Linked DNA regions of Homo sapiens: regions 1 and 2 are each linked to region 3. Evidence: fine-mapped expression QTL. A gene starts in region 3. Each other region holds a variant in brackets. All regions are shown on one strand. Distances are between the middles of the regions.

Region 1 (8,178 bases), 35 kb after region 3:
GCTGCAGTGCCAGAACCTGTCTGTTCACAATGTCAACCAATCACCTGTTAAACGTTTAAACACTTAAACCCTCGGGGACTCAGTTTTCTCATCTGTAAAGTGGGTGGGGTGGGGGTGAGCTGCTGTCAGCCATCAAGACACCCCCAGCTCACCTCTGTGATTCTAGCAGTGTCCTCTCACCTGTTTTGTTTGTTTTTAAAACAATTCCATTAAAAAGTGAGCAAAGGATCTAAATAGACAAATAGACATCTCTCAGAAGAAGACACACAATGGCCAACAGGTATATGAAAAAAATGCTCAACATCACTATCATCAGGGAAATGCAAATCAAAACTGCAATGTGATATCATCTCACCCCAGCCAGAATGGCTGTTATTAAAAAGGCAAAAAATAACAGATGCTGGCAAGGATGTGGACAGAAAGGGATTCATCCACTGGTTGGTGGGAGCATAAATTAGTACAGCCATTATGGAAAACAGTAAGGAGATTTCTCAAAAAACTGAAAGTAGAACTACAAACCATCCAGCAATCCCACTACCAGGTATTTAAAGGAAAGAAAATCCATCTATTAAAGGGATGCTTGCACCCGCATAAACATCAACTGCAGCACTATTCACAACAGCAAAGATACGGACTCAACCGGAGTGTCACCAACAGATGAAAAGATAAAGAAAGGGCGGTATATTTACACAATGGAATATTATCCAGCCATAAAATGAGAATAAAATCCTGTCATTTGCAGCAACGTGGATGGAACTGGAGGTCACTGTGTTAAGTGAAATAAGCCAGGCACAGAAAGACAAATGTGGCACGTTCTCACTCGTACATGGGAGCCAAAAAAAGTGGATCTCATGAAGGTGGAGAGTAGAATGTTGGTTAACAGAGGCTGGGAAGGGAAAGGAGGGTGGGGGAATGAAGAGAGGTTGGCTAACGGTACAAACATACAGTTAGATAGGAGGAATAAGTTCTAACGTTGGATAGCAGAGTAGGGTGACTCTGGTTAACAACTACTGTATATTTCAAAATAGCTAGAAGAGAAGACTTGAAGTGTATCCAACACATACAAATGATGCATACTCAATGCTGGGCGCCAGTGGCTCATGCCTGTAATCCCAACACTTTGAGATGCTGAGGTGGGTGGATCACTTGAGGTCAGGAGTTCGAGACCAGCCTGGCCAGCATGGCAAAACCCCTTCTCTACAAAAAATACAAAGGGCATGATGGCAGGCACCTGTAATCCCAGCTACTCAGGAGGCAGAGGCAGGTGAGGCTCTTGAACCCAGGAGGCCGAGGCTGCAATGAGCCAAGATTGCACCATTGCATTCCAGCCTGGGCGACAGAGTGAGACTCCATCTCAAAAATAACAACAAAAAAAGGCCGAGTGCAGTGGCTCACGCCTGTAATCCCAGCACTTTGGGAGGCTGAGGCAGGTGGATCACGAGGTCAGGAGATCCAGACCATCCTGGCTAACACGGTGAAACCCCGTCTCTACTAAAAATACAAAAAATTAGCCGGGTGTGGTGGTGGGCGCCTGTAGTCCCAGCTACTCGGGAAGCTGAGGCAGGAGAATGGCGTGAACCCAGGAGGCAGAGCTTGCAGTGAGCTGAGATCGGGCCACTGCACTCCAACCTGGGCGACAGAGCGAGACTCCTTCTAAAAAATAAAAAATAAAAATAAAAATAAAAAATTCCCTTTCCTCCCCAACAAGGAGGGCAACATCAGAAGTGCTACCTGAGCCCCTGTACAGGCTGGGAGGGAAATATTTCTGTAGTTTGAGAACCTTCTGGATCAGGCAGGAGGCCTGTGGAAGCGAAAGAGGAAGCGTCCTTCTGTTTACCTCCCTCTGGTGGCGTCACACTTCCTTGCTTTGTGCATAACCTGCAGGCCGGCGGCCCACCCGTCCCCTGGGAGCACCTGGCTGGCTCAGAGGTCTCTGCAAAGCAGCGCAGAGCAGGCTTTGGCTGCTCCCCCAGAAGCAGGAGCCACTCCTCTGGAGCCCGTGGTGCTCTCACAAGCGTGTCTTTAGTCCGGCCACCCTTGGCAACGGCGGCACAGAGGTCAGCCATCAGTGGCCAGCACATCCCACGGGGTGTTCCTCGGTGCAGGAGAATCAGGGGTGGCTGCAGCCAGGTCTCGGAGTCCTCCGAGAGGGCAGGGAATTCCAGAAGGCACAGGTTCCAGCCCCAGTGCCTGGTTTGAGAACAGTGTCTTAAACAATAGAATTCTTTGTTTCAAAGAACGTTTTAGGCAAATCCAAGTGAAGCTGGGTGGGCGTGGGAGCTCAACCTTCCACGTCCCCTCCTCCTGCCCCTGGGACTTATAGAGGAACTCAGGGCCTTGGAAACATGGGGCTCCCAGGTCTGGAGCAGTGGGGCCTCCCTGCAGTCTCTCTTGAAACGGTTGATGGTAGCCACAAGGGTCATGAGAGTAGCAGTTCCCAGGATGTTCCGCTACGTACTCCACACCCGTCCTCTGGTTCACTCTGTCCAGGGTGCCCTGGGATGCAGGCTGACCATGTCACCCACCCCTCTGGCCTCTGCCCCTACCTGTGGGGTTTACAGAACTCAGTGGAGTGGCATAGACGCCGCAGGTGCTCAGAAAGGACACATGAGAGAAAGCTCTTAGGACAACGCAGGGGCTTAATAATGACATGCTCAAACGAGGGTCCCATCTACCCTGGGAGTAAGGACATCTGAGTTCTGGTCTGGCTCTGTCCATAACTAGCCTGGAACCCCCACCCCAGGGCCTCAGTCTCCCCACCAGTGAAATAAGAGCCTGCCCATGGGGCTCTGCGGGCCCTCCCGGCGCTGACACTGCAGCTCTGCCACCGTCAGACGCAGCTGGCTGGGCCGAGTAGCAGCCTGGGCCCGGGAAGGGCTGCTTCTGCCCTCCGTGTGGCTGTGGGCAAGGCACTTCCCTCCCAGCCCCAGGTTCCTCCTCGGTCTGGGGAGGGTGTGATCACGTGGTCAGACACCATCAGGCCTGGGACCATCCCGCACCCCGGCTCTGGCCACAGCCAGGGTCACAGGAACTCTCGAGAGAAGGAGCTCCAGCTGGGACAGCAGGCAGGTCTGCAGGAAGGCCCGAGGTCAGGCTGTGAGACCCAGGGTAAGGCTGGGCAGGAAGCAGACTCCTGTGAGGACCTCAGGCAGTGGCCATGCTGGCCTCTCACAGAACTAACACCTAAGGGCAGGAGGGAGCGTCTGCAAAGCTCAGACCCTCCAGGGAGTTTCAGGCTTTTCTCCATTTCTAATCTGTGCGTGGTTCTCGGATCCAGCAGTTCTCAGCTGGGGGAAATTTTGGGCCAGGTGCGGTGGCTCACACCTGTAATCCCAGTGCTTTGGGAGGCCGAGGCAGGCTGATCGCTTGAGGTCAGGAGTTCAAGAGCAGCCTGGCCAACATGGTGAAACCCCGTCTCTACTAAAAATACAAAAATTAGCTGGGCATGGTGGCAGGGGCCTGTAATCCCAGCTACTCGGGAGGCTGAAGCAGGAGACTTGCTTGAACCCTAGGGGCAGAGGTTGCAGTGAGCCGAGATCACACGACCGCACTCCAGCCCGGGCAAGAATGAGACTCCATCTCAAAAAAAAAAAAAAAAAAAAAAAATCAACTGGGGTAAATTTTGTTCCCAGGGAACATTTGGCAATTTCTCGAAATGCTTTTGATTGTCACAACTGTTCGGGGTCTGGGGGTGCCAAGTGGCATCAAATGCGTGGAGGCC[T/C]GGGATGTTGCTCAGCACCCTGCAGTGCACGGAACGGCCCCTCACCAGAGAATGATCCCCAGATGTCAATGTCAAGGTTGTGAAACCCTGGTCTACCCCAAATCCCGTCCACTCTCCGAAGCCCTGCTCCGATTCCACCTCCTCCAGGAAGACATCCCTGGTCCCCAGTGAGTCGTTAGTGACTCCATTGGCCTTGTATCAGGTTTTCTGATATTCTCATTATTTGTGGTAGCAGCACAGCTCTCATTTCTCACCTTTTCACGCAGCCTCAGAGAAACATACAAAACATGTGTGCACCTTAGTGATTATCACAAAGTGAATTCTTTTGAACCGCCTTCCAGGCCAAGAAAGAGAACTTTGTTGCCCCTGAGTCCCCTGAGGTACAATAACAGCCCTGCCTGCTGTTAAGCAACCAGTGTCCTAACTTTTAGGGAAATAGCCTCGTTGTGGGTTTTGTTTTACAGGCTTATCACCCAACCATCCTTCTCTAGATAATGTAGTTTAATCTTGACGTGGTAGACCATTTTTTTTTTTTTTGAGACTGAGTCTCACTTTGTCAGCCAGGCTGAAGTGCAGTGGCGCAATCTCAGCTCACTGCAACCTCCACCTCCCCGGTTCAAGCAATTCTCCTGCCTCAGCCTTCCAAGTAGCTAGGATTACAGGCGCACACCACCATGCCTGGCTAATTTTTGTATTTTTAGTAGATGTGGGGTTTCACCATGTTGACCAGGCTGGTCATAAACTCCTGACCTCAAGTGATCCACCCCCCCTTGGCCTCCCAAAGTGCTGGGATTACAGGCGTGAGCCACCACGCCCAGCCTTGTAGACATTTTTGACGTGCCTTTTGATAAGTCTCTAGTCACCTGCAGGCTGCGCCTCCCTCCCTGTCTTTTCCTCGCCGTTTCCTGCAGCCCGCATTGTGTTGCTTCAGGTTCACTCTGCTGTTTGACACCCTCCTCTGTCCTCTACGTTCTCTGCAAATTGGCAGCTGGGTCCAGAAGCTCCGTCAGGCTCCTGTTCAGTCCCTTGGCGAGCCCAAAGGTTGCCTTGTGTTCCCACTGCAGGGCACGGGAAGGCCAGCTTGTCTCTCCCCTGGTGACGTCAGTAGCTCTTGATGCTCCAGGCCCAGGCCCATTAATTCATCAGGGGCTGCAATGATGCAATTCTGACTCTAATGTTCCTGTTTTAGTTATTCTGTGGCACCCTCTTAGAAAGAGATGCTTCTTCTCATCTGCTGCTGGCTACCCAGTGGCACAGTTCAAATAAGAAATGGGGCTGGGCCAGCCATAGTGGCTCATGCCTGTAATCCCAACCCTTTGGGAGCCAAGGCAGGTGAATCACCTAAGGTCAGGAGTTCAAGACCAGCCTGGCCAATATGGCGAAACCCTGTCTCTACTAAAAATACAAAAATTAGCCAGGCGTGATAGCATGCACCTCTAGTCTCAGCTACTCAGGAGGCCGAGGCAGGAGGATCACTTGAACTGGGGAGGTGGAGGTTGCAGTGAGCTGAGATTGTGCCACTGTGCTCCAGTCTGGATGACAGAACAAAACTCCATTTCAAAAAAGAGAAAAAAGAAATGCACCTTCTCTTCTTTACCAGTTTTGGGAGAGTGACTTAGTTCCCTCTCACCTTCCACCATGGAACAATCAAGGTTTTCTTATTTAATAACACTACAAACACTTGGATTTAAACATATTTGAGGTCGCACGGGTGGCTCCCGCCTGTAATCCCAGCACTGTGGGAGGCCGAGGCGGGCAGATCACCTGAGGTCAGGAGTTCGAGACCAGCCTGGACAAAATGGTGAAACCTTGTCTCTACTAAAAATACAAAAAAATTAATTAGGCATGGTGGTGCACACCTGTAATCCCAGCTGCTTGGGAGGCTGAGGCAGGAGAATTGCTTGAACCCAGGAGGCAAAGGTTGCGGTGACCCAAGATCGTGCCACTGGACTCCAGCCTGGGCGAAAGAGCAAGACTCCGTCTCAAAATAAATAAATAAATAAACAAACAAACATTTGAAAGCTTCAATCAATGGCAATGACTATCCTTTTCCAAGCTCAAATGGTTTGATCTTTGCCCAGTGGATGCCTCTTAAGTTGGCGGCAGAAGCCTTGGAGGTGGCCCTGGTGGCTTTGACGGTTTCGTGCTATGCAATGTGTCAGGGTGGCTCCACTCATCTTGCATATTTCCTGCTCCAGACCTAGAATCAGCCATTGCTCCAAAAAGCCCTGGTTTCTTGCTGTAGGAGTTTGTATTTCAAGACCACAGTGTGGATTCTAGGGATGCTCATTGCTACTGGGTTGGTCTTTTTTTTCCTTTAAGACCTTTACAGTGGACAGAGCTAGGAAATATACCAACATTTTTTTAAAACATAAAAGGGCCTCATGAGTTCAAACTAATATTTCCAATTAGAATTCAGGACTAGAGTTTTGACTTAAACCCTACTATATTACATTTGCCATCTTCTTTCTTCCACACTTAGAATTCTGCTTCTCAGGAAAATGAATGTACACTGTCTCTCATAGTTGTTTATTTGCTCTTTTCCACTTTACACACTCAATGGTCTTAGAATAACAATAGTAAAATCCTAATGACAACCACCACTACTGCTACTAATACTCTACCAGCATTACTGAAAACAATTACATTGTTCTCATATGCTCTCCCCATTCTCCACCCAGTTTCCTTATCCCATCTGTATCTACACGGTCAGAAAATGTAGCCATCACACGCAAAACATAGGTCCTAATAAGGGAAAAGGAGTGAGGCTGGCAAAAAAAAAAAAAACTCAGATAAGCTATAAGTCTGCCTTTCTTCTTGATCCAGAACACATAGCCCTCCTGCACAAATAACTCACAACCTTCCCACACCTGACTCATCACCAGACCCTTGGCTGATAGAAAAATGCAAGTTAGCTCGCTGCAACCTTGGTGTTAGCGATACTTCACATGGCCCACTCCAGCACACAGCACGAGCACCGTCCTGCGAAATCCCCAGCAAGCCTCTGTCTCCTGGCAGTCAGCTCCTCTCTTGCTGATCTGCCCATTGCACCCTTGCAACGTCTTTCTTTTCTTTCTTTCTTTCTCTCTGTCTCTCTTTCTCTCTTTCTCTGTTTCTCTCCTTCTCTCCTTCTTTCCTTCTTTCTTTCGACAGAGTCTCACTGTCACCCAGGCTGGAGTGCAACAGTGCGATCTCGGATCACTGCAACATCCACCTCCCAGGTTCAAGTGATTCTTCTGCCTCAGCCTCCTGAGTAGATGAGACTACAGCCATGCACCACCATACCTGGCTAATTTTTTTGTATTTTTAGTAGAGACGGGGTTTCACCATGTTGCCCAAGCTGGTCTCAAACTCCTGACCTCAGGTAATCTGCCCACCTTGGCCTCCTAAAGTGCTAGGATTACAGGCGTGAGCCACTGCATCCTACCTTTTTTTTTTTTTTTTTTTTTTTGAGACGGAGTCTCGCTCTGTCGCCCAGGCTGGAGTGCAGTGGCGGGATCTCGGCTCACTGCAAGCTCCGCCTCCCGGGTTCACGTCATTCTCCTGCCTCAGCCTGCCAAGTAGCTGGGACTACAGGCGCCCGCCACTACGCCCGGCTAATTTTTTGTATTTTTAGTAGAGACGGGGTTTCACCGTTTTAGCCGGGATGGTCTCGATCTCCTGACCTCGTGATCCGCCCGCCTCGGCCTCCCAAAGTGCTGGGATTACAGGCGTGAGCCACCTACCTTTCATACTTCAATAAATCTGCCTTTCTTTACCTACAACTGTCTTGGTAAATTCCTTTACTTCCAGTGACACTGGCCCCAAGTAGTCGCTATCCAAGACACTATACTCTCCTTTTCAGCCTTGGTTTAGCCTTGGTTCCTTATCTAGTGCTTCCATTGAGGACTCTATTGGTTGCCTGAAGGTCATTCTCTGATAGGCTCCTTGGGCCCCTCAGACCCTGAGAACATTATTTCCTGAGTCCTTTGGGGCTGCTTTTTGTTTGTGCCTTTTATACTCCAAAGTCTGTTTTGCTGGGTGCATAGTACTTGGCTCACATTTTCTCTCGAGTATTTTAAGTACAGTATGTTTCTCCTTTTTCTTCTGGCAGAACGTGTTGTGGTTGAAAAGTCGCACGACAATCTAATTTTTATTTTAGTATAAGTCCCTCACTCTTTTAACCTGGACTCAAGGATTTTTTTTTTTTTTTTAGATTGGTAATTTTACTAGAACATGTTTTGATGTTGGTTACCCTGGGTCTGTCTTCTCAAATACATGGTGTACTCTTTCAATATGTAGTTCCAAATCTTTTTGTTTTAGGGAAGTTTTCTGAAGGTACAGATGTTTGTATTTATTCTGTTCTTTCCCTAGGGTCATCTCATGGGAAGAGATGTTAGTCTTGTCAAATGTTTTGTCACTGCCTAACTTGGGACCTCACTGTTCCTAGATGTCACCTCCTGCTGCTCCTGGCTCAG
Region 2 (8,178 bases), 61 kb before region 3:
CCCAACAGGAAACACCCTTGGTGCAGTTTAACCAGGGGGCCCGAAGGCCTGAGAGAAGGTGCGTGGCCATGGGTCTCGCGGCTGGCCACACGGTAAGTGGGCTCCATGCTGAGCCTGGGCTGCTCTGCCCTGCCACCCCTCCAGGCTTCTGCTCCTGGCAGGCTCTAGGGGGCAGCCAGTCCCCACACATAGGGCACAGTTCCACTTGGCAGACTCAGCCACGTTTATTCGCCTTTCCAAATGGCGACTTTCCCCTCCTCCCTGCCCGACCCACTCAGCACGTATCTGTCCTCAGCCGAGCACAGCGTCCTCACGGTGTCCATGTGCGCCACCAGCTCCTTCTCCACGGTCTTCCTCTCGGCGTCAATCACGTAGATTTTCCCCTTGGGTGTTCCCTGCCCCAGCCCTCGGCTGCCCACCCAGACCTGCCAGGGAGAAACGGGAGGGGTCAGCAGGGAAAGAAGCCCCTCCCAAGAGCACCAGGGCTTTGCCCGGCTACCCAGAATTGACGCGTGTGCCTCCAAATCTATGTCCTTCCTGGACAGGGCCTCTGCCGCCTGAGGGTCAGGGCCGCCTGGCAGGTGCACAGGACCCTTCTCGGGCTTAGAACCTAATGGCCGAGGGGCCTCTGGGGAAGAAGACTGCACTGCGTGCTGGAAAAGTGCTGGGGTGCATCTTAAGTGTTCTCACCAAACAACAGCCACCTGTGTGAGGTGACAGATATGGTAATTAGCTTGTGATTATTTCACAATGTATACTGAAATATCACCTTGTATACCTTAGATATATATAATTTTTATTCATCAATTATACCCCAATTAAGTTATGGGGGAAAACACTAAACGAATTCCGCCCCACCCCCGCCGTGTCTCCGACTTGCTCGGGGCCTGGAAGTCCAGCTTTCCTTCCAATTTCTCCCTTTTCGGATGAGAATGTCTAACCTCTGCCTGGCCCAGCCTTGTGTTTTGGGAAGAGACAGCCTGTTCTAGCTGCGCAGGTTCACGGTGCAAGAGGGGTTGGTTCTGCCCCAGGTGGGACCCGCCCACGGCTCACCCACATCGGAGGGCTTTGGCTTCACTTGGAGATTTGGGGCTCAGAACTGACACTGGAGGGACTGGGACTTCGGGGGATGTAGTGATGGAGGGGGTGTATTTTGCATGTGGAACAGATGTGGATTTAGGGGGCCAGAGGGCAGACTGTAATGGGTTGAACAGTGTCCCCCCAAATCCATATCCTCTGAACCTCAGAATGTGAGCTTCTTTGGAAGTAGAGTCTGCAGATAGTTCAGATGTGGTCACACTGGTTAATCCAGTACGACCAGCATCCCCATAAGAGACACACACAGGGAGAGAGAGTGCCATGTGGTGCAGGCACAGGTTAGAGTGCCACGTCCACAGCCAGGGCACGCCAAGGACGGCGGCCACATGAGCGGGTGGGGGAGAGAAGGGCCTGGAGTGCACGCTCCCCCCGAGCCCCCGAGGGAAGCGGCTCTGCCGACACCTTGGTTTTGGACCTCCAGCGTCGAGAACTGTGAGAAAATTAAGTTCTGTCATTTGAAGCCATCCAGTTTGGGGGAATGCGCTGTGGAGTGCTTGGACCACACCATGAAACCAGCACATGGTGACCTGTGGGCCCGTTGGCACCAACCCTGCACGTGCCTGTTAGGAGGGGAACCCTGAGAGGCGAAGGCAGGAGGGCACGAGGGCGTGCGGCTGGCTCTCGGGAGCATGGGGATGCGGCCAGGGCAAGCGAGACCTGCCGGGGATGCTGGGGATGGCGGGCCCTCCACCCTACCTGCTTCTTCACCCGGATCATGCAGTTGATCTCAGAGCAGTCCTCGAGGGGCACCCTCTGCGGGGGCTGGGCCAGGTCCTTCAGGCTCCAGATGTAAACCTCGCTGCGTCCTGCACAGGCCGCCCACAGCTGCTCCTCCTGAAACGCAGGGCACGGTGTGGGCTATGGGCCCCGGGCCACGCACATGCTGGGCCCACAGCCCCTGCTGGGATACCTCAGGAAGGAGCTGGAAGGCCAGGAAGGAGGTACTGGTGTCTTTGAAGTTCTCCTCAATCTTCAATTCTTGATGGAGGGATCCATTCATTTTCATGACCATGATGCTGTTACCTGTGCCTGTGGAAGGAAGGAGCTAGGATGGGGCCAGGCAGTGTCATTGGCAACATAAGACGCCAGCACCAGAGCCGGCCTCACTGCTCTTTCCAGCGTGGTGATGGGGGGGATCACCACGTGCCACCTGGCGCCTGAGGAATGCACAGGTGAGGTCTACTGGGAAAAAATGCAAGCTAGAACCCTGGGTCTTTAAGAAGAAATGAGGCTCACCAGAAAACGTAAATATATGGGCAGTTTCTTAATTTTTCTTAACTTTCTTGAAAGATCATTGACTGCTTAAGCAAAAATCTTAAAGAATGTATTATTGGGAGTACCACACTTGATACTGTTGTAAGCTTCTTACCCTATCCATGAAGCAGTATCATAGTTAGTTAAGGAGGAGGGTGATCGGTTAAGGTTGCATATTGCAATTCTTAGAGCAACCACTGAAAAATAAAACAAAAATATAATGCTTAAAAACAGTAAAGAAGATTAAATTGAACATAAAAATATTCAATACAAAAGAGGGCAAGAAAGGAAGAACAGAACAAATAACAGATGAGGGGAAGAAGGACAACCGTTGGCTTGCACCCAACCACGTCGCTACCGGCCCTGAAAGTGAGCGGAACAGTGGGCAGGGGCCTGCACAGGCGCTGCTCCCAGGGAGGCGTCAGCGGGCACCGGGCACACGACAGAGTGCTCAGCACCATCAGCCATGAGGGAGCCACAGATCCAAACCACAAGACGCCACTTCACTCCCGCGGGGACGGTGTCAGTAAAAACAGGTGAGAACCAGTTTGGGTGAGGATGTGAAGAAATGAAGCCTGAGACTGCGGGTGGCGTGGAAGCTGCTGCCGCCACTTCAGAAAACAGTCTGACGGTTTTTCAAACAGTTAAGCAGAGTGAACCCAGTGCCCACTTGGGGCAGGGGAAGGATGAGCATGTTCCATATGCACACAATGGACTATTACCCTGCAAGAAGGAACGAGCTATTGATATTGATACTCAGAACGTCAGCGATGAATACTATAAACATCCTGCTGTCTGAATAAAGCCAGATACAGAAGAAGGCCTACTGTAGAGTCCATTTGTAGAAAGTTCTGTAAAAACCAAATTCAGATGACAGAACTAAGAGCACTTGTATCCCCTGAATGGCGGCACGGCCTGGAAAGGGGCACAGACGCTTTCAGCTGTGACGGAAACGCTGCGTGTCTTGATTTGTTTCATGGTTATGTAGTTTAGATGTTTGTCAAAACACAACAAACTGAGCACTTTTTGGTGAGCTTTACTATATGTGAAACACGCCTCCATTACAAAAAAGAAAACATATTCCCAGCCGTCACTCATGTAATCTGGCACATGCCGAGGAAGACCTCAAAGTGCCGGCAACTTCTGTGCTCTGGGGCGTCCAGAAATGCAGACACAGCCGCCAGGCAAAGCACCTGCTCCTCCCATCGCCCCCCTGGCAAAATCCCCAGTCTGGGTCCACGGAGAGTCCCAGGCTGCAGCTCTGTGCCAAGCAGCCGAGGGGAACAGAGCACGGGCTCGCCAGCTGCCCCCAGGTGTGGAGACGTGACGCACACAGAGGCCTCCCAGGAGGAGCAGCCATGACTCCGGGGGACACATGGGCCAGCTTCAACCCCAGAGCAGGGCACAGCAAAAGCCAAGGTGAGGGACAGGAGAGCAGTGGTGCGTCCAGGCAAGACAGGCATCCCGTCAGCCGCTGGGTAGAAAGGCAGAGGGAGGCCTGGGGAGCCCCCAGGAGCAGCAGTGCAGGTGGAGTAAAGGTTGCTGCGACCACAGAAAGGGAACCCGAGTTTAAAATAAAGACTGGAAAGGCGTGAAGCAAAGGAAAGAGGCTTTCTGCTCTCGTTCAGCATCCTTTTCCCAGAGCAGGGAGGTAGGGTGCCCGCTCTGATGGCAGGGGCCGGACTTACAGCACCACAGGCGGCCGCCGTGCAGTCTGATGGACGTCAGGCCACCTCG[C/T]GGCAGCTGGAAGCGGCTGGTCACCTGCAGTGTGCTCACATTCCACACCAGCACCATGCCGTCCATGCTGCACGAGTACACGTTGCTGGGGGCACAAAACACACACACACACCTTTAACTTGGGCCCCTGAAAACACTGTGCACATTTTAACCCAAGAGAGAACCAAGTCGCCATGAGAGAAAATGTGCTCAACACGGATAACCTGCAAACATGATAATAACATGCAAACATAATAACCTGCAAACGTAACCTGCAAACATGATAATAACATGCAAACATGCTATGAATGCAGCCACAGCCAGGCTTGGCTCAAATGTAACTGACTCGGCAGGAAAAGGCGGGTTTCTCGGGACGCCCACCTCTCCCACCACCGCGGGCCGCAGGCTCAATGAGGTGTTGTCATAGAGCCATGACATGACCATGAACTGAAATGGAACCTCGTCAGCGGTCCCCGTTCACACAAGGGACCAGGGAGCCAGCACGATCCTCAGAGCTCTCGGGTGACATGGGCTGGCTGCAGGTGCAGGCGGCTGTGGGCGGGGCTGGGCTCGAGCCTGCACCCTGCGCCACCCCTGAACCTCCTGAGCCAGCTTTGCTTCCAGACTAGCACCTCCCTACCCACCCCAACAGGGCCTGACACAGGCGCCCCCGACACTAAGTCAGGGGAAAAAGGAGTGGGGAGTGTGGCCCCTCACCCAGGGCTGGGGCTGCCTGGACCAAGTGGGCAGCCTTGTGCACTTTCCCCACCATGAGCCTCTGCTCAAGGAGACCCCACCTCCTCCTCCCGTCTCCCTGGATGCCCCGTGTCCAGTGCTGCTCCCACTGTGGGAAACAGCAGCGAACAGGCAGCCCAAGGCCAACACTGAGCACTCAGGCGATTATCAGGCGAGTCCAGGCTTCTGACACCATGGCTGGTGCACCTCTGGGAGGCTGTGCCCTCTCGGGGCTGCCCCATGCCACAGTGCCCACAGCAAGCTCAGCAGGAAGGCCGGGTGTGGTGCCTTCATCACCACGCTTGGCCCACACTGGTGTCATGGGTTCTCCGCACCCGTGAGCAGAAGCAGACCGAGGACACCACCCAGCTTTCCTCGTTCTAGATCCACTTCACTCTGTACGCCCCGCCTGGCCCCTGTGGGCACAAGACTTGGGAACCCTACCCGCTGTGCCTTCTGCCCACCCACAAGCCAAACAGTCCCTTCTCCCCAGCAGAGCTTACTGCACCTGGGTGCCTCCTGTCCGTCCTGCACAATCAAATCCGTGACACTGGAGCAGTGGGCTGTGAGCTGCTTGTTGCAGGACATGCTGTGGACGTTGATGATGTAGATGACGGAGTCTTCCGAGCCAACCCACACCTGGTTCTGGTCGGCCATCACCATGCAGTTCTAACAGGAGGCCACGGGAACGTGAGAAATCAGTCAGTCTCGATACTGGTGAAGTCATATTCTATACATTTACTGCACGTGCTGAATTAGCGGATATGGAACCACTGCTCCTAGGGGACACGCCGGCTCAGGGTCCTGGGAGCCTCTGGCCCTGACGTTGTCATCCACCCATCAGTGCATAACCTTGTTCTCCGCGTGCTCTGTTCACAGACACCTTATTGACTACGTATGATTGATTCATTAACACGAAACCCACGGCCGCCAGCACTGTCACTGCGGCCTGAACCAAGCTCATCTCACACATGCATTTTCTCTGCAAGACACGTCACCGCCTCCTTGTGCTTAGGGAGCTCCATGCTTGAGGCTTTCTTAAATGGCAAAATCACCAACGAAAAGCAAAAAATGTGAAAACTGTGGCACCAATCAGGCCGAGGAGAGGACACTTGTTGGCCCAGAAAATCCATATCAGGTGACTCAAGTTTTTCCCCCGTCTGTGCACGTGGATGTCTGTGGATCACCAAGAAAATACCACGAGTATCTGTTTTGGGAGTTACAAGTAAATATTAGCAGGTGGTCGAATTTGCAAATACGGAATCTCCAAATGATGAGACCGACTGTATGTGAACAAGCAGAACTGGCAGTGCTCCCAGTGTCTAGAGAGTGCGCTCAGGGTTTCTGTCTAAGCTAAGCAAAGTCAACATAATGATTGCTTTTAGACTCTTTGAAATCAGAATTTTTATTTTTGTTTGTTTGTTTATTTTGAGACAGAGTCTCACTCTGCCACCCAGGCTGGAGTGCAGTGGCATGATCATGGCTCACTGCAGCCTCAGCCTCCCGGCTCAAGCGATTCTCCCGCTTCAGACCCCCGAGTAGCCGGGACTACAGCCATGGGCCACCACGCCTGGCTGATGCCACCACGCCTGGCTGATGCCACCACGCCTGGCTGATGTTTGGCAGTTTTAGTAGAGATAGGGTTTCCCCACGTTGCCCAGGCTGGTCTCGAACTCCTAGACTCAAGCAATCCTCCTGCTTCGGCCCCCCAAAGTGCTGGGATTACAGGCGTGAGCCACTGCGCCCAGCCTTGAAATGCTTATAACTAAGAACGAACTGAAAAAAATTAAATTTAGAAAAATAATTTCCCTAATTTTTCCTTTTTTTGTTGTTTGGTTTAAAGCATTACTAGACTTTTGTCAATATTTTTACTGTATCATGGATCCTATTACTTTATCATCTGAGGCTCATGATTTGAATATGGGGGGAAATGATTTAGCAGGCTCTTATTACCTTCTAACATGTAAAGTTTGCTATTCAGGTATCTCAAGAGTGGTCCCACCCTCTTGGTGGTATGTATTTGAGTTCACAGTATTTGTTTTATAGCAGTTTTGCAAGCACATACTGTGCCACGGATTTTCCCACATTATTTTTAGACAAGGGAACACAGCCATCAAAACTGATACCATGGCCGGGCGCAGTGGCTCACACCTGTAATCCCAGCACTTTGGCGGGGCCGAGGCGGGAGGACTGCTTGAGCCCAGGAGTTTGAGACCAGCCTGAGCAGCACGGTGAAACCCCATCTCTACTCAAAATACAAAAATTAGCCGGGTGTGGTGGTGCGCACCTATATAGCCCCAGCTACTCGGGAGGTCCAGGCTGCAGTAAGCAGCGATTGTGCCACTACACTCCAGCCACGGGCAATGGGAGAGGGACCCTGTCAAAAAAAAAAAAATGGTACCAGCCAATGCCTAATATATACTTAGGTATATACTCCACTGGAGTGTTCTTTTCACATTAAACATGTAAAAAAAAAAAAATCCTATCATGCTCAAGGAGTAAGGCATGAGGATTTCTCAGCAGATCCCATGATGGGGTGGCTGCTTGGAGGGTGACCAGATAGGAGGAGAGTGTAGATGCGAAAATATTTTGAAAACTATAAAATGCAATTTAAATGTGAACGTCATCTGCAAATCCATGAGCAAGAACAGGAGAAACATGGACAAAGGGCGCGCAGGCCACGGTGCGGGGGAGTGTGGGGTCTCAGAGCACGGGGAGCTACTCAGCGGCCTCTCGGGCGACAGGGAAGCGCACACAGATCCGCAGGGAGGGGCAGCTCACAGCGCTGACGGGCAAACAGGGAAAATCCCCAAGAAATGATGGTCTGCAGGCAGGAGGGGCCGCTGGGGGCCTGGAGGGATGAGCAGGGCAGGAATCCCAGCTTCCACACTCAAGATACCATGGTCATGGAAGAAGCGACACACCATGGCACTGCCAAGGACACACTACTAAAAATGTATTAACAGTTGCACTTGTTTTAAAATTATCAGAAACAATTCAAACTTGCTTTAAATCAGGGGTGTGCACTCTTGTGGCTTCCCTGAGCCACAGTGGAAGAAGAATTGTCTTGGGCCACACATAAAATACACTAACATTAACGATCGCTGATGAGCTAGAAGGAAAAAGATTGCAAAAAAAACTCAACATATGTTTTAAGAAAGTTTACAAATTTGTGTTGGGCCTCATTCAAAGCCGTCCTGGGCCACGTACAGCCTGCAGGCCACAGGTTGGACAAGCTTGCTCTAAGTGAGAGGAATAATGTGTGACGAGTGGACACTGAGTTTTGCTGGGCCCTGGTCTCTGCCACCTGGCACGTGGGGACAGGTGGATAACACTGAAGTCACTGCAGAGGCAGCTGTCTCCTCTTTTGCTCCA
Region 3 (8,178 bases):
CAGAAGGTCTCTGCCACCCCGCAGCCAGGACCACAGGCTCCTCCAGGCCTCCACCTCCCAGCTCATCACCCCCTGGAGCATCTCGGCCCTGCCCAGTGGTATTTTACCACCTTCCATTTGAGGGGATGCGGTGGAGCAGAGATTGTGTTGTATTCCTCTCTGTCCCCACATTTAGCAGAGAAGATGACTGAGGCGATATCGTTCCTCATTCACACTCCTGGCACCTGGTGATCTCTTAGAGGCATGCTCAGCCTGGACTGAACACTGGTGATCACACTAGACTCAACACCCCACCTGTCATTCCTCTAGTTATCTCTAGTCACTTATAATGATGTGCCCCAGATCCGATCAACTTGGCATTCAGTAGTTCACCATACACCTGTTTTTTCTCAGAATGAAATCTCTGTTGTCTTTTCTCAATGGACAAGCAATACAATCTCATTTTTAAAAATAACAATATAGAGGCCAGGCACAGTGGCTCACGCCTGTAATCCCAGCACTTTGGGAGGCTGAGGCAGGTAGATCACCTGAGGTCAGGAGTTCAAGACTAGCCTGATCAACATGGAGAAACCCCCTCTCTACTAAAAATACAAAATTAGCCAGGCATAGTCGTACATGCCTGTAATCCCAGCTACTCGGGAGGCTCAGACAGGAGAATCGCTTGAACCTGGGAGGCAGAGGTTGCAGTGAGCCGAGATGGCACCATTGTACTCCAGCCTGGGCAACAAGCGTGAAACTCCATCCCCCACAAAAAAAAATAATAAATATAGAAATAATAAAGGAGCTAATAGAAAGGGACGGCCCTCCCATAATTCCATGACACACTTTGCACAGGGTGGATACATCCTTCCCATTTTATGCCTTTTTGTGCATTTTATACATTTTAATGCATGTATAAACGTATAATTTTGTTTCATAAATGTAGTCATCCTACATAACAGGTTCCATTAGCTGTTTTAACTACTTCATGTGGCTGACCTCCCTGTTTACAACCGTACAGTATCACAATATCACAGCATGTGTCAACTCAGTCATGTATTGACCCAGCCTCCTCCTGAGAGATGTGTGGGTGGTTCTCAAGTCTTCACCACACTGAACAGAGCGGTGACACACACTTGCACGCACCCAGTTCTTTCCCTAGAATAAATTCCTAAAAATGGAAGTCTTGGCACAAGAGTGTTCCAAGGTTACTTGGTGATACAGGTTGTGGCTGCCCTGAACAACCAGACCCCGCCACCACCGAGACGCTAGTCACCTCTGCCAGTCTGCTGCAGGAGGTGAGGTCATTTCCCATTCTTCTGTCCCAGGTGCTGACTTATTAAACCCCTACCCAATAACCATCATTTTGGTTTTTAAAACTGCTAATTCAAAAGTAAAAACCAGAACACTCTAATTTACTTGAGTCACAGGTTAATTTCTAAGTTAGAGTACACAGTGGAATTCATCTTCACTATAGGATTGGCCATTATTAAGGGAATAAAACAGAAATTAATCAATTTTTTTATTGCTCTCCAACTGTTTAGTTAGAATTAAATGAAATTTTAAACCCAGTTTCTTAGCTCACTGGCCACACTACAAGCTCAGTGACCACATGTGGCCAGTGGCTATTGTACTGCACGGTGCAAAGAGAGGACACGAACTGCCATCACCCAGGAAGGCCAGCTGGCCAGTGCTGTTCTGAAACTGAAAGTCAGGACGATGTCCACCAAAAGCCATAAAAATGGAGCTTCACACGCAAGAATTATGCGGGTGACCTGTACTACGCAAGGTACTCAGAACACTTTCTACTCCTGTGTGATGGATTTATAATGGATCCTGTCACACCTATGTCTAGTCTCCATAGCAACCAATAATGGGGTTGGGGAGGGCTCTATAGTAAAGGGGTGGAGGGGAATGTAACTAACCACAGTAACTAACATTAGCCTGCATTCTCAAAGTCTCGGTCACCATTCCTAAAAAAACAAACACTACTCCCCCTTCTAGGAAATGAAACAAAAGGGCCCTCCACTATCCAACATGAAGCTGGATATTCCTCATACCTCCGGACCTCTGTTTTCCTGTGTCATCAAGAAGGAATGCCTGGGCCACAGAGAAATGGGGATTTGTAAAAGTCAAGGTAAAAATTATTTAAAAGCGGCCAGGTGCGGTGGCTCACACCTATAATCCCAACACTTTGGGAGGCCGAGGCGGGCAGATCGTGAGGTCAGGAGTTTGAGACCAGCCTGACCAACGTGGTGAAACCCTGTCTCTACTAAAAATACAAAAATTAGCTGGGCATGGTGGCACACGCCTGTAATCCCAGCTACTTAGGAGGCTGAGGCAGGAGAATTGCTTGAACTCAGGAGGCGGAGATTGCAGTGAGCCGAGATTGCACCATGGCACTCCATCCTGGGCAACAGAGCAAAACTCTGTCTCAAAAAAAAAAAAATATATTTAAAAGCCTTGGACATTCAAAATAGAACCGCCGAAAAAACATCTAAATAAATAAAATCATATGTTTGGTTAACTATAACATTAATATTGACCTTAAAAGTAGGATGGCTCCAAGAAATGGAATCCATCCCCTAACGCTCCTTATTTTCTTAGTCCTTCACTACTTTTCTCTCCACCCTTTGCCAAACCCCTAACAGAATCAAAAGACAGAGTAAAGAGGACAAAGTTAAGCATGCACAGTAGCAGACTGTCCATACTCTCACTTGACCTGGGAACATGAAAATGTTGCAGCGTGTTTAGTTCAGGAATGCACCACTGGCCAGGCGCAGTGGCTCACGCCTGTAATCCCAGCACTTTGAAAGGCTGAGGCGGGAGGATCACTTGAGCTCAGGAATTGGAGATGAGTCTGGGCAACACAGTGAGACCTCCTCTCTATTATTAACATAATAATAATAATAAAGAAATTGAAAAAAAGAAAGCACCACTGCAAATATTCCAGTTGATTCGCCCTGCCCTCAAAAGACATGTGTCACACCAAGCAACTAACACCCATGTTGTAACTGCCCCAGAGGAAAGACGTTCAACGGCTGAGGAGACCACAGCGGCAACTAGGTCACTTCCTATTCGAAGAAAAAGGAGGAGATGCCATCTGGCAAATTCGAGGTAGGGAGACAAATCAATCGATGACGTTGCGAGGAGACAGAGGTCAAACGGGATCTACTGACATGACAGGGCGTTGAAGGGAAGGAAAAGTTGAGGGAAACGAGGAAACTATTTCCATAGGAGAATGCTTTTTCACTGAAGTCGAAACTGGCTTGGTACTGACGCCCAGCAGGGGAAACTCCCCGGACACTCACAGACATTCATCTGGTTACTTGCAGGAACATCTGCCTTTCCTGGTGACACCCTCTGCCCTGCAGTCTTCATTTTCCCTGGATAGCCCAGCGTCATTTAAATACTCAGAAGCCTCTCTGCCTTTCTATGCTGTTGTCTGCAAAGAGATGAACGGACCTGTGCAGACGGCTGGCCAGTGACGCCGGGATCTCTAGGTAACATGACCCAGTCACGGTGTCACAGACAGGCGGACCAGGAGGAAACCAGAGACACAGATGGATTCCAGGGAAAGCCAGCGTTACAGAATTAAGAAAAGCTGGGGAAGAAAAAGGAAAACGAGAATTTCCAAAACTGCCGCTTTCCCAGCAGAAGGGAGATGAAGTTGTCACTTTGGCTGCGAGGGTGCAGAGATGGAGGAAGGGTTGGGGGTGGGGGTGGTACCGCAAGGGAGAAAAATAGCTATAGGCTTCATCGCAAAGGGGTTCATGCAGAATACGCGAGGCCGGCGGCTAACTCTAAGATTGCTCTCTCGTTATTCTGTGCCTGGTGCAAAACCCACTACTCAGGGGACAACACATCCCAGCATAAAGAATGAAATCATTTCAGCAGCGAGGGCTGGGCCCGCTAGACCGTGAGGCTCCGGCGGCTTCCGCCCGTTGTCTGGTGCACCCCACCTTCAGAAGCACCTGCCCAAGATGGGAGCGACTGAAGAGAGAGGCCCCAGAGACTCTCCGAGGGGCGGCACCCCCAGATTCCCGGCCGGCGGACCAAGTTCGCAGCTCTCAAAAGACATGTCTCACACCAAGGGCCCCGGGCGGGGAGAGGAGAGAAGAGGGGAGGGGAGCAGGGCGCTGCTCCAGGGCACCTGCCTGAGCTCGGGCGCGATCCCCGGCCACAGGCGCGCGGGGTCACCGCCGGGGGACCGGGACTCAGCCCTCGGAAAGTCCGCGCCAACCCACAGGGCACCCGGGCGCCCGCTCTCCGACTGCTGTCCCGGCTGCCGACTCGTGGCCCACGTCCGCCTCAGTTTCCCCGCCCCTCACCTGCTCGAGACTTCGGAGACTGTCCCGGGGGGCGCCCAGCAGCGCGCAGAGCTCCAGCAGCCCCGAGGGCAGCGACAAGTGCGGCGACGCGGCCTCCGCCATGGCTGCCCGCCGCCCGCCGCCAGTACCGCACTCGGGCGCCTCAGCCGCGCAGTCGCCCGCAGACCCCTGGGGACCAGCCGCGCCGCCTGGGGGCCGGGGGCGCTGCGAGCGCCGTCTGCGGGGCGGGGCTGGAGGCGGGGCCTGGAGGGGCGGGGCCCGAGCCGAGGCGGGGCCTGGAGAGCCCCAGAGGATACCGCGGGGAGACAGAGTTTGGGGGCGGGGCTTGACTGGGCGGGGAGGTTCTGGGCGGGGCCTGGAGTGGCGTGCCCGGCCCTAGGGACCGGGACTTGGGGGCGGGGCCGGTCCTAGGGCGGGTGCTGCTGGAGACCCGCGCGCGGTCGTCATTTCCTAACCCGCCTGCGGGCCCTGGCGCGTGCGCGGCGTCGGAGCAAGCGGCCCCTTCCTTCGGCCCCGCCCAGCCCCGCCGGCCGCCCGCTCCCTGGGGAACCGAGGGAGGAATGGGCGGGGTCCTCAGGTGCCCGGCGACGTCATCCAGCCCCCAAGGCTCCAGGACGCAAAGGGTCCCCTGATCTGGCAGTCCCTGGACCTACCCTGGAGAGCGTGGGGGGACAAAGGCCGGACGCGCCGCCCGCTGCCGCCTCCAGGAAGCCCTCCCTTGCCAGGACAGTGGAGTTGGCCGGGTGTGGACAGCAGGAAGGGCCGGCGGGAAGGGGGGGTGGAAAGAGCCACTCCTGGTTAATAACTCTGCGGGGTTAACCTAGGGCCGGCCATACTCAAGTACGGACTTGAGTAAAATTCAGCAGGAAAAGGAGCAGGGTGGGCGCCGCTAGAGGGAGGCTTCAGGACTGAGGGTCAGAGGCCCAAGGCCTGGCAGGGCCCTTCCCTGGTCAGCTCCAGGCTTGGCCTGATGCCCGGTGGGCCACGGGCCTCTTCCAGCCTCAGGCTGACCCCAGAGAAAGAGGACAGCCCACAAGCCCGGGAGGCCGGCTTGCTGCCTGGTCATTGCTGCAGAGCCTGGAGGGGGCCTGCGCTCAGTCCCCGCTGACCGTCCCCTCCCTTGACCCTGCCATAGCCATCTGTGTAACCCAGGGGAAATTATTCCAAAGGGACTTCCACTTCTGATAATCTATGATTCTATTTTCTAAAAAACAAAACTCTAAAATGCTTAATGTCAAACATCTGTCATCAGCTGAACAGGAAAAGGAACAGTAAGTACAAAGCAAGGCAACATCAGAAAAGGGAGCCCTGAGGAATTTCTCCCTCCTTCCCTGAGCCGGGTGAGGCCGTGACTGCAGCCTGACTCACAGGTTTTATTTCACTTATTAACCTAAAGATGGTGAGGATCTGCTGGTTCTCCCCCAGGCCTGGAGGCTGCCTACCATCGGTGGCTCTCATCGGTGAGCTGAGGCCACAGTTGTTATAGTCTCTGACTTCAAAAGAAAGACCGATTTCATGAACAATTGCCTGTCTCTCTCGACGGTGGCCTCGGTTTTTTGTTGTTGTTTTTCTGTTTGTTTTTGAGACAGAGTTTTGCTCTTGTAGCCCAGGCTGGAGTGCAGTGGCATGATCTCAGCTCACTGCAACCTCTGCCTCCCAGGTTCAAGCGATTCTCCTGCCTCAGCCTCCAGAGTAGCTGGGATTACAGGCGCCCACCACCACACCTGGCTACTTTTTGTATTTTTAGTAGAGATGGGGTTTCACCATGTTGGCCAAGCTGGTCTCAAACTCCTGACCTTAGGTGATCCACCCGCCTTGGCCTCCCAAAGTGCTGGGATTACAGGCATGAGCCACCACACCCAGCCTTGGTGGCCTCATTTTTAGCAGCCTCTGCAAAGCACACAGCCTGAATCCGTCACCTAGAGTCCCCAGCATGCAGGAGAGGCGCTCTCAACCCGGGCTGGAGCCATGAGCCACTCCCTGAGGGCACACAGGGCCTGAGTCTGGCTCCTGTGTGTTGCTGTGTGACAGGTGAGCTCAACAGCCCTAAGCCGTGACTTCCTGAGGGGCAGTGGTCAAGATCCAAGGGAGGTAAACACATGGCAGCTCTTGCCACCAGGACCCAGTAAGGCTCACGCGAGAGCAGGTCTCTGCTGTCCCTTTATCACCAAGAGGCCAAATGCTTTAAGGAAGAGAGCTCCAGCAGTGCACAGAGCTTGCAATCCACTCCTTTATGCCCCCTTTTCCTCCTCCTTAAAACCAGATAATTGGGCCAGATGACCTCTGAGGGGCTCCCAGTTCTGCACTTTTTAATACGCTCCCGTCTCTCATGCCACAGGTCCTTCCAAAGTGCCTACGGAAAGCTTTGTCCCATCCTTGAAAAATTGCTAATGGGTTTGGAGATACGAGGTGGAGATGACTAGCAATCAAACTCAAAGGTGGAAGTCACATCGAGGCAGATGAGCAGATGAGGGGACCTAGAGAAGAAGAGAGGTGCAAGGAGAGCCCAGCCAGCAGGAACATCTGCCCCAGTAGGCAGCACTGCCCCACATCAGAGTCGAGGAAAGCAAAGCTCGGATTGGATAAAAGAAACTTGCAAACACGGTCAGTGCTTACTGCATGTGGGCTCAGAGCACGTTACCCTCCTTCCCTGCATGTTCCTGTGAAACGGGTTTACTGCTCTAACTCTCAGGGACACTGTGAAGACCAAACGAGAAAATAGAAACAAACATAATTTATAAACCATAAAGTACTGACACCAAAAGAGGGGCGAGCACAGCATTGTGAATGTGCTGGTACTAAATGGTTTGTTTTAAGATGATTTTATGGTGTGTGAATTTCACTTGAATAAATTTTTTTAATGGAGTTCATGGGGACGCTGCAGGATGTCAATTAACTTTGGACATTTTAGCAGCGCTTTAGGTGTTAAAATTATTTTTTAAAAAATACAGGATGAAGGGAAAAGCTTCATGACATTGGATTTGGCAGTGATTCCTTGGATATGACCCCAAAAGCACAGATAACGAAAGAAAAAATAGTTAAATTGTCTTCATCAAAATTAAAACTTTTGTACATCAAAGAACTCTTTCAAAAGAGTGAAAAAGTCACAGAATAAGAGAAAATCATATACCTGATAAAGAATTAATATTCAGAGCCAGATGCAGTGGCTCATGCCTGTAATCCCAGCACTTTGGGAGGCCAAGGCAGGCAGATCACTTGAGATCAGGAGTTCGAGACAAGCCTGGCTAAAATGGTGAAACCCCAGCTCTACTAAAAATACAAAAATTAGCCAGGCGTGGTGGCGTGCACCTGGAATCCCAGCTATTCGGGAGGCTGAGGCAGGAGAATCGCTTGAACTCAGAAGGCAGAGGTTGCAGTGAGCCAAGATCACACCACTGCACTCCAGCCTGGGCGACAAAGTGAGACTCCATCTCAAAAAAACAAAACAAAACAAAACAAAACAAAGAGTTACTATTCAGAATATATTAAGAATTCCTACAACTCAACAACAAAAAAAAATCCAACCCAATTAAAAAATGGGCAACAGACCCAAATAGACATTTCTTAGAAGACACACAAATGGCCAATAAGCTCATGAAAACATGTTTAACATCACTAATCATTAGGGAAATGCAAATCAAAGCTAAAATGAGATACCACGTCACACTCATTAGGTGTTATTTTTTAAAAATAACACAACAACAAAAAATAAGAAATGTGGGCGAGGATGTGAAGAAATTGAAACCCTTGTGGACTGTTGTTGGGGATGTAAAATGGCGCAGCTGCTGGGGAAAACAGTATGGGAGTTCCTCACAAAACTAAACAGAATTGCCAAACGACCCAGCGATCCTGCCTCTGACATATACTG

Evidence for each region.
Region 1: its variant is fine-mapped to the expression of DENND3 in whole blood (INTERVAL, PIP above 0.99).
Region 2: its variant is fine-mapped to the expression of DENND3 in whole blood (TOPMed, PIP above 0.99). The same link has a PIP of 0.9 or more in blood mononuclear cells, lung and monocytes.

The regions. Positions count from the first base shown.
Region 1 is chr8:141,090,389-141,098,566 of GRCh38, reverse strand. No RefSeq gene overlaps it. Among named protein-coding and RNA genes, the nearest start is that of DENND3, 34 kb to the left of the region's middle. RefSeq lists an enhancer at 2,541-3,540 and a silencer at 3,786-4,019. The variant T/C (reference allele first, on the strand shown) is at 3,722.
Region 2 is chr8:141,186,280-141,194,457 of GRCh38, reverse strand. It overlaps DENND3 (DENN domain containing 3), which reads right to left. Exons shown (of 23, transcript NM_001352890.3): 19 at 5,312-5,472; 20 at 4,041-4,174; 21 at 2,009-2,127; 22 at 1,795-1,932; 23 at 1-425. The coding sequence ends at 225. Among named protein-coding and RNA genes, the nearest start is that of DENND3-AS1, 60 kb to the right of the region's middle. RefSeq lists enhancers at 1,332-1,832, 1,833-2,333. The variant C/T (reference allele first, on the strand shown) is at 4,090.
Region 3 is chr8:141,124,942-141,133,119 of GRCh38, reverse strand. It overlaps DENND3 (DENN domain containing 3), which reads right to left and starts at 4,531. Exons shown (of 23, transcript NM_001352890.3): 1 at 4,311-4,531. The coding sequence starts at 4,412. It overlaps DENND3-AS1 (DENND3 antisense RNA 1), which reads left to right and starts at 2,979. Exons shown (of 2, transcript NR_183310.1): 1 at 2,979-3,096; 2 at 6,649-8,178. RefSeq lists enhancers at 3,440-4,270, 5,104-5,935 and a silencer at 4,126-4,985.